Linked DNA regions of Homo sapiens. The protein of the gene in region 2 interacts with the protein of the main gene of each other region in a pairwise test. Each region holds a gene or a part of one and is shown on either strand. Other genes may lie near its edges. The genes, in order: SOCS6, ZMIZ2 and RANBP3.

What was found.
Region 1: the proteins of ZMIZ2 (region 2) and SOCS6 interact in a two-hybrid assay, tested with the Homo sapiens proteins (one large-scale study listed by BioGRID and IntAct).
Region 3: the proteins of ZMIZ2 (region 2) and RANBP3 interact in a two-hybrid assay, tested with the Homo sapiens proteins (one large-scale study listed by BioGRID).

What each region holds. Positions count from the first base shown.
Region 1 is NC_000018.10:70,293,083-70,295,659, forward strand, and holds part of SOCS6 (suppressor of cytokine signaling 6), read left to right. Parts: exon of another isoform or gene 1-1,965; intron 1,966-1,996; exon of another isoform or gene 1,997-2,577. UniProt on the Homo sapiens protein: SOCS family proteins form part of a classical negative feedback system that regulates cytokine signal transduction.
Region 2 is NC_000007.14:44,758,813-44,762,463, reverse strand, and holds part of ZMIZ2 (zinc finger MIZ domain-containing protein 2), read right to left. Parts: intron 3,184-3,651; coding exon 3,004-3,183; intron 2,901-3,003; exon of another isoform or gene 2,889-2,900; coding exon of another isoform or gene 2,718-2,888; intron 2,314-2,717; coding exon 2,236-2,313; intron 2,040-2,235; coding exon 1,871-2,039; intron 1,043-1,870; coding exon of another isoform or gene 1,016-1,042; coding exon 871-1,015; intron 770-870; coding exon 559-769; intron 1-558. UniProt on the Homo sapiens protein: Increases ligand-dependent transcriptional activity of AR and other nuclear hormone receptors.
Region 3 is NC_000019.10:5,929,550-5,933,200, reverse strand, and holds part of RANBP3 (ran-binding protein 3), read left to right. Parts: intron 1-656; coding exon 657-749; intron 750-1,669; coding exon 1,670-1,797; intron 1,798-3,651. UniProt on the Homo sapiens protein: Acts as a cofactor for XPO1/CRM1-mediated nuclear export, perhaps as export complex scaffolding protein. Bound to XPO1/CRM1, stabilizes the XPO1/CRM1-cargo interaction. In the absence of Ran-bound GTP prevents binding of XPO1/CRM1 to the nuclear pore complex.

The DNA.
Region 1 (2,577 bases), on a different chromosome or scaffold from region 2:
TACTGTGGTCCTTCTTTTCTGTGTCCCTGACACATCCCAGGGGGCCTGGCCACTGAGTAGGAGGGGTGTGGGTATACAGAAAGTAGTTGCGGTTTTCATGTTGTTATCTACACCTTAAAGGCAGAGATGTGCTGTGTACATGTTAGAAAGTTGTTGGTATTTCATGTCGTTTGTCCTTTTCTGAGCTGGTCTGCTTGCCTGGCTGAGTAAATCATAGCACTAATAAAACCAAAGTCCTTATCATTACATGGCCCCAACAGCCCCACAGAGAGACAACTGTCACTGCCTGTAGAGCTATGATGTGTGTCTGAGTGACTCAAGTACCAGACTGACTGGCAGTGTAGACGCCCAGATCTCTTTCACTTCTGGAAGTATAGTCATGTATAGTGTATAGAAAGTCACCATCCCAAAACCCATTTCTCCTGCTTACATAGCTTAGTGAAGTGAAACCTCAGTTATCTGAAATCTCCTGGTATCCTCAGTTTTCTGGTGTAGAATTAAGCCAGAAGGAAAATCTCCTTTGGAATTAGAAAAGCCAGAGACTTAGAAGCCCTCCATGCTAACTAAGGAAGACAGTCTCTCATGGGGATGCAGATCTAGGTTTGAATTTCAGCACTTCAATTTTATAGGGTAGATTAAAACAAAAAAAAAAACTTAAGGTTTTGTTCCTTTACGTATATAATAATGATGATGTTTCTCTCAGAGCTGGTGTGATAATGGAATGAGATAGCCGGGCGCGGTGGCTCGCGCCTGTAATCCCACCACTTTGCGGGGCTGAGGCGGGTGGAGCAGGAGGTCAGGAGTTCGAGACCAGCCTGGCCAACATAGTGAAACCCCGTCTCTACTAAAAATACAAAAATTAGCTGGGCATGGTGGCACACACCTGTAGTCCCAGCTACTCGGGAGGCTGAGACAGGAGAATTGCTTGAACCTGGGAGGTGGAGGTTGTGGTGAGCCGAGATTGTGCCACTGCACTCCAGCCTGGGCAACAGAGCGAGACTCCGTTTAAAAAAAAAAAAAAAGAAAGAAAATGGAATGAGATAATGCATGTTAGTGTATTAAGTGCCTGAAATATAACAAGTGCTAATACTTTAACACTAGTATTCTACTCCTTTATCTGACTGCTTTTGACTAGTTAGATTATGTTTTAAAGTAATAGTAATAATTCCTATTTAAAGTAATTATTACTATTAATTCTTTTCTGTGTCCCTGACACATCCCAGGGGGCCTGGCCACTGAGTAGGAGTCCGTTTTTCTTGTCAGTTTTTTTTGTTGTTGTTCTTTGGAGGGGAGTTCCCTCAATTTTTCTTTTATTGGATGTTTACTTTTTGGCTGTGGGAGTTTTGTTTTCTAACTGTTCTCCTCACCCCCTCTTTTATAATATATAATAATGGTAATAATTCCTATTTAAAGTAATTATTACTATTAATTTAAAACATAATCTGACTAGTCAAAAGTAGTATTCTGATTAATCAGCCACACCTGTGTTAGACTTGAATGTTTTTGTTAAGGAAGCCTAATGTGGGAAAAGTGTTTGAGACCAAAAGAGCAAGAGAAATGGAAATGAAAGCAGTAAGTGAATGGGCGCCTTCAGAAGGATTGCTAGTGCAAGCTGCTAGACTGGTAAGGATTACAGGTGGTCACAGTGTTAGCAGCAATTGCCTGACCTGGCTGTGGGGTCATTGCAGTTCATTGGTGGGAGACCGAGAACAAAAAAGATGCCGCACTTGCCTTCTCTGCAGAGCCTTCTGCTCTGATTATGTTTGTTCTGATACTGTTTTATCACTCCTAACAGCGAACACACTAAAATACTTTCTAAAATTGTTAAAAGGGCATCACACTTGGAGACTGGGGAGTGATGATTATCTTATTTTCCATAGCATCGGACTCTTGAGTATAGAGAAGAAAAGAAAGAAGACAGGATATATCTGAAGGCCTGGAAGGCAGGCAGTAATCTGAACATCAGTAAGTCCTAATGGTGTCATTATGCCATCCTGAAATTTTCCAGCAGATAAATTTGGTCATCTGGAGAGGCATCCATTTATATACAGCAGTTTGTGACAGTCTGAGATTATACTTAATATACACACTTGTGCTTAAAATACCTTTTTGAAGACAGGAATGTATGGCTCCTATTAGATAAGATTTCCATCAAAAACAATTTCAATAGTTCAGTGTTAATCTTTAGACAAGGTATTTTTACCCAGCGCTCTGGGTAGCTGATTATTTGGTGCTGTTTATGGTGGCACTTACAGTGATTTTTGTGGTACACATTGTTCTGACCATATCAATAATATGCTAGATGGTTGAAGCAGCTGGGTTAGCATGCTTTGAAAGTCAGATGAATTCTTACTGGTAGATTTTTACTGTATCTGTATGTTACTTGTTTAAAGTTTGTTGTGATGTGTATAATAATGGTGTTTGTTTTTAAAGCTTAATTTTGGTTTTCAGTAATGTATTACCATCCCTCAGACAATAGTCATTTTTGTTTGTTGACATTGCTTTTAAAGTTAAAAAAGAAAAGTGACATATTTAGGAAATAACATTATTGCCAAATATCACAGACTGGCAGAAAAT
Region 2 (3,651 bases):
CCTCATGCCCAGGCTGACTAGTGCACTCATAAGCCATGTCTTTCTTCTCTAGCCCAAGGGTGACCCTGATGCTTGCTAGAACCGGTAATGCTTGATCAGCCGGGGACTCCGAGCTCCATGAGCTTTCTGCATATCCTGGTTTCTCTTACATAATTAATGTGAGCATCAAATCTAGTCAATTTACTCTAACTGGAAAACAGCTAGGGTATATTACTGGATCGCTTTCTTAAAGGGCAAGGATGACAGATTAAAATAGAAATACAAGGCAGTAACAAAGAGAAGCAACGCATTTTTCTGAAATAATAAAGCCCCCACGTCCTGCTCTCCACCCTGCAAGGGGGCACACATGCTACAGCAGGCGGTGGACAGCAAAACAGCAGACGGCGGCATGATCTGATGGTGCTGCAGGCCGGCCCGCCCATGTCCTGGCTCCGCTCCCACTGCGCCGCTGGGCCAGGCCCCGCCCACACCCCGCCCCACCCCACGGCACCGCTGGGCCAGGCCCCACCACACCCCGCCCCACGCCACAGCACCGCCCCCTCGGCGCAGGACACGCACGCAGCAGCAGGCGGTGACGGTGATCTGGATGGTGTTGCGGCCTGGCTGGCACACATGCTTCAGGTAGAGTGGCTTGTGCGAGGTCTTGTTGTCGCCACGCTCGATGGTGAGCGGCGTGGCATTGACGCTGACCTGCACCGAGGCTGGCCAGTTGGTGTTCATCTGCCGGTCCTCGTGGTGGTAGCACTTGAATTGCAGCTCCAGGTCAGGCCTGCTCAGGAAGATGGGTGGACACCCAGAAAACGGGCCCTGAGAGTGTGGGAGGAGGAACAGAGCCTCGTGGGGGTCAGGTGGGGGCCAGGCGGAGCTCACCTCATTATCAGGGTCTTGTAGACTGAGTCTCGCAGCTGGAAGACATGGTTGCTTACAGCCAGGTTGTGCTGCAGGCGGAAGGGCTCCAGGACCACCCCATCGCGCACAGGGAAGGTCAGCCGCAACTCGTCACAAGGCCCGCTTCCTGGGAGCAGAGGCCACTGGCTGTGAGCTGGGTTGCCCCAGCCAGAGCGTCTTGTGTCACTCAAGGAGGGCAGCGGCTCCCCAGCCACCTTCCCCGCAGGGACCTTGGTGAAGGGAGCCCCTCCTGTCAGGCACTGCTTGGCAGGCCTGAGTGGTGCCCTGGGGCTGGGGCCATGGGCAGCATCTCTCCTGAGGCCTGGGCATTCGGTCGTGATGTTCTGTCTTGCCTCCTGCCTCAGCAGTCCAGCCCAGTGTCCCCTAAACCATAATAGGGGAACATGTCCCCAGCCCAGACAAAAGGTGTTTCCAGTGCTTTCAGAGAGACTGGGAGGCCAAGGTGTGTGAGAGCCTCCTGCAATTGCCCTATAGCTCTGTTTAGAGTTCTACGATCCCAACTTCTGCTGCTGTGGTCTCCCTGGAATGGGCTTCCGGGGTTCATAAATCCCCTGAAATTATATACAACATTTTGTGCACAGGGGAGAGAAGAGCCACAGCCTCCTTTGCAAAGAAAGCCACAAACAGAACAAAAAGGTGAAGGCTTGGCACTAAGCGACTTGTCTTTAAGAAGATGGAATCCTTGGCCTTTTTTTTTTTTTTTTTTAAGACAGGGTCTTGCTTTGGGACCCAGGTTGAAGTGCAGTGGCAAGATCACACTCACGGTAACCTTGAACTCTTGTGCTCAGCCTCCGAAGGTGCTGGGATTACAAGTGTGAGCCACCACACCCAGCCCTTTTCTTAGGGATATGGCAGCCATCCCCTGTCCCCCAAGCTCCTACAGGACTCTCTGGAGTCCTGTGATTCCCCCATGCCCACCCTGGCCTTGTCACCCCGCTGTCCCAAGAGTGGACAGACTTACCAGAGGGCGATGAGTGCAAGGAGTTGAGGTTGGGCTTGAGATCAGGCAAGAAGGGAGACTTGACCTCTTGGTTTGGTGACATGTAAGGGACGCTGCTGCTTGGGGTCATGGGTGGCGTGGGGTTCCCTGGCAGTGGGGAACTGGGATAGCCCGGGATGGAACGGGTAGGCTGTAGGGTTGAGCACAAACAGTCAAGGCAGATTGCCAGGGTGGATGGGAGTGGAGTCTGTTCACGGCGCACCCACTGGGAACCATGATAACAGAGGTGGACAGGAGGCGGCCCCAGGGGTGCCTGCCCGGTCGCCCTCTCTCCATATGCCCACCCTGTGAGCCTCCCGGCCCATCCTCCCGGCCAGGCCCCCTACCCCACTCAGGCCAGGTTGGCTGTAGCTGACGCTGCCCCCGTTGAAGCTGGCGCCCTGCCCGTTGAACTGCTCTGTGGGCTGCGGGAGAGAAAACTGCATGCACCTGGGGCTCCAACCTGACCCCTGCCGGGCCCCCTGGACCTGACCCTAGAAGCCCACCATACACGGTCTTCTTTACACTCTCTTGTATTTTCCAAATAATCTACAAGTAACACTACTTAAAGCAATCATAGCCACAGAGGAAAATGATCAAACAGGTTGGAGGGGCTGAAAAGACAAAAGCACGCTAAGCCCTCCTCCTCTCCTCCCCCAAGCTGCACCACCCGGCGCACCCAGGCTCCCAGGGAGGTAGGCTCTGCCCATGCACCCAGAAAGGGTACATGGCCAGCAGCGAGGGCCTGTCCTCTCAATGGATTTCTCTGCAGCAAGTAGAAGGAATGACACTTTTCCATAAAGAACATTCAAATGTTTTGGGTACCCACCTGCTGCTCCCTGCACAGGATACCCCTGAGATATATGAATCTTGTAGAGGGTCCTTTCGGAACTGGATCCCAAACCCCAGGAGCTGCTCCTGCACTGGTCAGAATGCCCCCACCCCCCACCCCCCATCTCCTGTAGAGCTGTGGTCCATGAGCACACATGGACCTACACATCCTGCTGGCCCCTTTAGCCACCCTGTCGCTCTCGAGGACAGGACTGCCCCAAGGTCCCCTGTCCCACAGCACTCAGCACGGAGCCCGGCACAGGGCCTGGAGGAGCCTGCCCTACCTTATAATGCAGTCCCGTGGGGCCAGGCACGGACAGGGACTGGGTCATGCCCTGCTGCAGGGGCAGCCTGTGCCCAGGGTAGGAAGGGGAGGGGGCAGGGGGCTGCCCAGGGCTGGGCGCAAACTGGGCGGTGCTGGGTGCATACTGGCCTCCTTGCAGATACTGCTGCCCTGGATACACCTGAAAAAGAGGCAAAATGCCCGAGGGGAGAAAAAAGGCATCAGGGGAGCTGGTTCCAGAAGGAAGTAGAGTCTCATGTGTGGCAGGGTTCGGGGAATGGAGATTTCCTGGTTCCCTTGAAGATCCTGCTGTGACACTGTCAGGCACAGGCAGTTCTCACATGCAGAAGCCTGTTTTTTTTTTTTTTTTTTTTTTTAATTTGAGACAGTCTCACTCTGTTGCCCAGGCTGAAGTGCAGTGGTGCAATCTTGGCTCACTGCAGCCTCCACCTCCTGGGTTCAAGCAATTCTCCTGCCTCAGCCTCCCAAGTAGCTGGAATTACAGGTGCACACCACCACGCCCGGCTAATTTTTTTTTTTTTTTTTTTGAGATGGAGTCTTATTCTGTCACCCAGGCTGGAGTGCAGTGGCATGATCTCAGCTCACTGCAACCTCTGCCTGCTGGGTTCAAGCAATTCTCCTGCCTCAG
Region 3 (3,651 bases), on a different chromosome or scaffold from region 2:
GCAGTGGTGGCACGGGAGCAGGCTAGGCGGGGTGCATCGGGCGGGCTCCATGCCCAGCAGTAGCGCACTTGGTTCAGCCTGTCTGTCCTTCATGTTCTGGCCCCCACATACCACAGTGTTCGCCCCAGTTAGCAGGGTGGCTGCATTCCAGCGGCGCGCTGCTAGTGAGCCGGCTGCTAGTGAGGCTGCCGGGGATGCTGCACAGGGCAGGGCACATGCAAGGGTCCTTGTCCCATCTGCCTTTGGCAGAGGGACTTCCTCAGCATGGCTGTTTTGAAAAACAGGTGCAAAATGTGCCTGTACGTGACCCCACACCGAGTCCTGAGCCTCCAGGTAGCTGCCTGTGAATGCACTGCTCTCCTCCCACAGTCTCCACTTGACTGTTGAGTCTGCCGGCGCCCCGCCACGTTACTGTGCTAACTGGATTAATTCACAGGCGTCGGTCACTGGGAGTTTCATGTAATCACATGTAAAAATAACAGTAGCCAGATCTCCTGGCCAGCTGTTAAAAAAAGACCTCAAGTTTTTAAAAAAGTGCTTCCCTGCAAAGTCTAGCCTGCAAGGGGCATGAAATGGGATGCCAGGGGTCAGTCTCTGAAGCGCCTGGGGGCAGGCAGGGGTCCACGGGCACTGGGAAGGCCGCCTTCTGTTCCTAGGTCTGCCAAGCCAGAAGCCCAAGGAGCAGCAGCGGAGCGTGCTTCGCCCGGCAGTGTTACAAGCTCCGCAGCCAAAGGCGCTGTCCCAGACTGGTAAGAAACAGCAGCCCTGGCGCCCAGGCCCAGACGGCAGGGTAGAGCGTTCCCGAAGTCGCACCCGGGACAGCAGTGTTGCGACAGAGGTGACTGCTGAATGCACCAGAAATACAGAGAGATCAGGGAAGATGATCCTTTAAATCACCCCCCAGCCGTCTCCAGCCCCAAGCCTCCTGAGCCCTGGCAACGGAGAAGGGAGAGGCGGCTCCACAGCTTCCTCACAGCTCTCGGCTGAGTGTGACTGTGTGGGTGAAACCTGCTTTGTTCATTCACTGTCTTCATAAAAGCAGGCCGGCTCCTGGGAATGAGATTTATCCCTGTGTGTTTGCAGATAGAATTTCAGCCTCAATTTTCACAGGTTATCTTTAAAAACTTGAAAGGTCATTTTATTTATTTATTTATTTATTTATTTTGGAGATGGGGTCTTGCTCTGTCACCCAGACTGGAGTGCACTGGTGCAATCATAGCTCACTGCAGCCTCGAACTCCTGGGCTCAAGCGATCCTCCCACCTCAGCCTCCCAAGTAGCTGGGACCACAAGTGTGCACCACCACACCCAGCCAGTTTGTTTTATCTTATTTTAGAAACGAGGACTTGCTGTGTTGCCCAGGCTGGTCTCAAACTCCTGGCCCCAAGCATTCTCCCCGCTTCAGCCTCCCAAAGCACTGGGACCACAGACATGAGCCACTGTGCCCGGCAGGTTTCTCTTTTTTGTTTGTTTCTCTTGTTTTTTTTTAAATCCAAGAATTTTGGCTCTTTGTAGAGATACCAGGTCCTTCCTTAAAAAGGAGACATGTGCTGTGGGCTTTACCATGGGAGGGGCCCTAGACTAGACGTGGCCCAGCCCCTCAGCTATGTGAGTGGGGGTGGGAGGGCCGCCAAGCACCTGTGATTCCCCACTCTCCTTCCCTCCCACAGTCCCCAGCAGTGGCACCAACGGGGTCAGCCTCCCAGCAGACTGCACGGGGGCAGTGCCCGCAGCATCCCCTGACACTGCTGCATGGAGAAGTCCTTCCGAAGCTGCCGATGAGGTGTGTGCACTTGAGGTCAGTGGGTCCTGAGGCAGGGAAGCGCTGCATGCTAGGCCCCTTGGGAGCGGGAGGGCAGCCTTCCCAGCATGCTGTGGAGTCCACACGCTGTCACCTGTTCCAAGCAGTTTCCACGTGGGCCTATTGTAAGGCTCTCTGGATTTGCTCAGTAGGCTCTAAATAACAGTACCTGACAAACCAGATCTAGATTCCCAAGGGTGGTCTTGCTGGTCAGGCAGAAGAAGAGTGTCTCCCAAGCAAGCTCTGCCGGAAGGACCTGTTGCCCAGAGTTCTGCCGGAAGGGCCTGTTACCCAAGGCTGACCGCCACATGTCTCACGGGAGTGATCCTTGAGGGAGGACCTGAACCACTGCACTCTGAGGAGTCACTAGGGCCCGAGGAACGGCTGTCACTGATGGGTGTCTTGCAATGTTTAACATGAGGAATGTCTCCCCTCTCTGTGTCCACACCCAAACCACCCCTCAGAGACTCCTATCTGTGTGGTTCCAGTTGAAAATTTTTCTTTGGGAGTCATCTCAGAAATAGTTTGTTTAGGCCGGACACGGTAGCTCACACCTGCAATCTCAGCACTTTGGGAGGCCGCGGCAGGTGGATTGCTTGAGGCCAGGAGTTCAAAACCACCCTGGGCAACATAGCAAGACTCTGTCTCTACAAAAAATACACAGATTAGCCAGGCATGGTAGCATGTACCTGTAGTCCCAGCTACTCAGGATGCTGAGGCTGGAGGATTGCTTGAGCCCGGGAAGGGGAGGCTGCTGTGAGCCGAGGTCACACCACTGCATTCCAGCCTGGACGACAGAGCCAGACCCTGCCTTAAAAAAAGAAATAGTTCCATTTAAGCGGGGGTATGGTTTGGATTATATGGGCCAAAAGCTTTGTGTTTCACAGCCACTGTGAAATAAGGGCCTTTGATGAAGAGCCTCCTTTGAAGTTGGCAGAGATGGGTTTGAAGTCAGAATTAGGGTAACACCATGTGGTATCTTCTGTGTAAAAGCCAGATTGGATCTTTGTGTTTATTTTCCGCTCTGTGTCCATGGCCTGCAGTTTTATACCCTCCATCCCCAGTAGATGTTCTGGCTCAAAGGGTGAAAATGGCTGTCCACAATTAAATTTGAAAACATCCTCACGCCCTTTTTCAAACGAGTTTGCTGAATTGGAAATAGGGATCATTTCCACCGCATTCTGCGGCTTGGAAGCTTTGACTGCTGAGGTCTCCTGAGCAGATCAGGTGTGCAGTTCTGAGTTGGAGAAGGACTTAGAAGTGACCCAGCCCGTCCCGCCATCTCCCAGTGTCTCTGATTGTCCCCGATGGTGAGTGCACAGGCTGACCTGGTAGCACCCGCTACCGAGAGCTTGTTCCTCACTGGAGAGGCCTTGCTGTGTCCCATCCCAGGGGACGGAGTCCGTCTTCCTGCCGGTTCCAGCCCCTTCTCAGCAGTGCACACAGCTTGTTCCCAAATGGTTGAGCTCAGAAGTTGTGATGTGCTGGCTGCCATTCCCAGCTCCTGCGTCTGGCTCCAAAGCCACTGCTCCATGTGGGTCTGGGGTGGAGCCATGCGGCCACACCCACGCTGCCCTCTGACCACACCCAGTACTGTTGAGATTCGCCAGGCTCGCTGTGTGTATCCTTCTCTGGCCCTACAGCAGGAGTCCGAGCTTTTCCAAGCCGCCCATGAACATGGCACACACTGCTCATCGGGAACGTGAGCTATGAGGCATCTCCTCTAAGGAGGGCTTAGATGTTGGGGGCGACCCATGGGGGAACTCCTGGTACCGTCTTTGGGAAAGTGGGGAAGAGGCTTCCCCTCCCGCCCCACACACACACAGAGTCTCAGACTGGTTACAGGCCTCG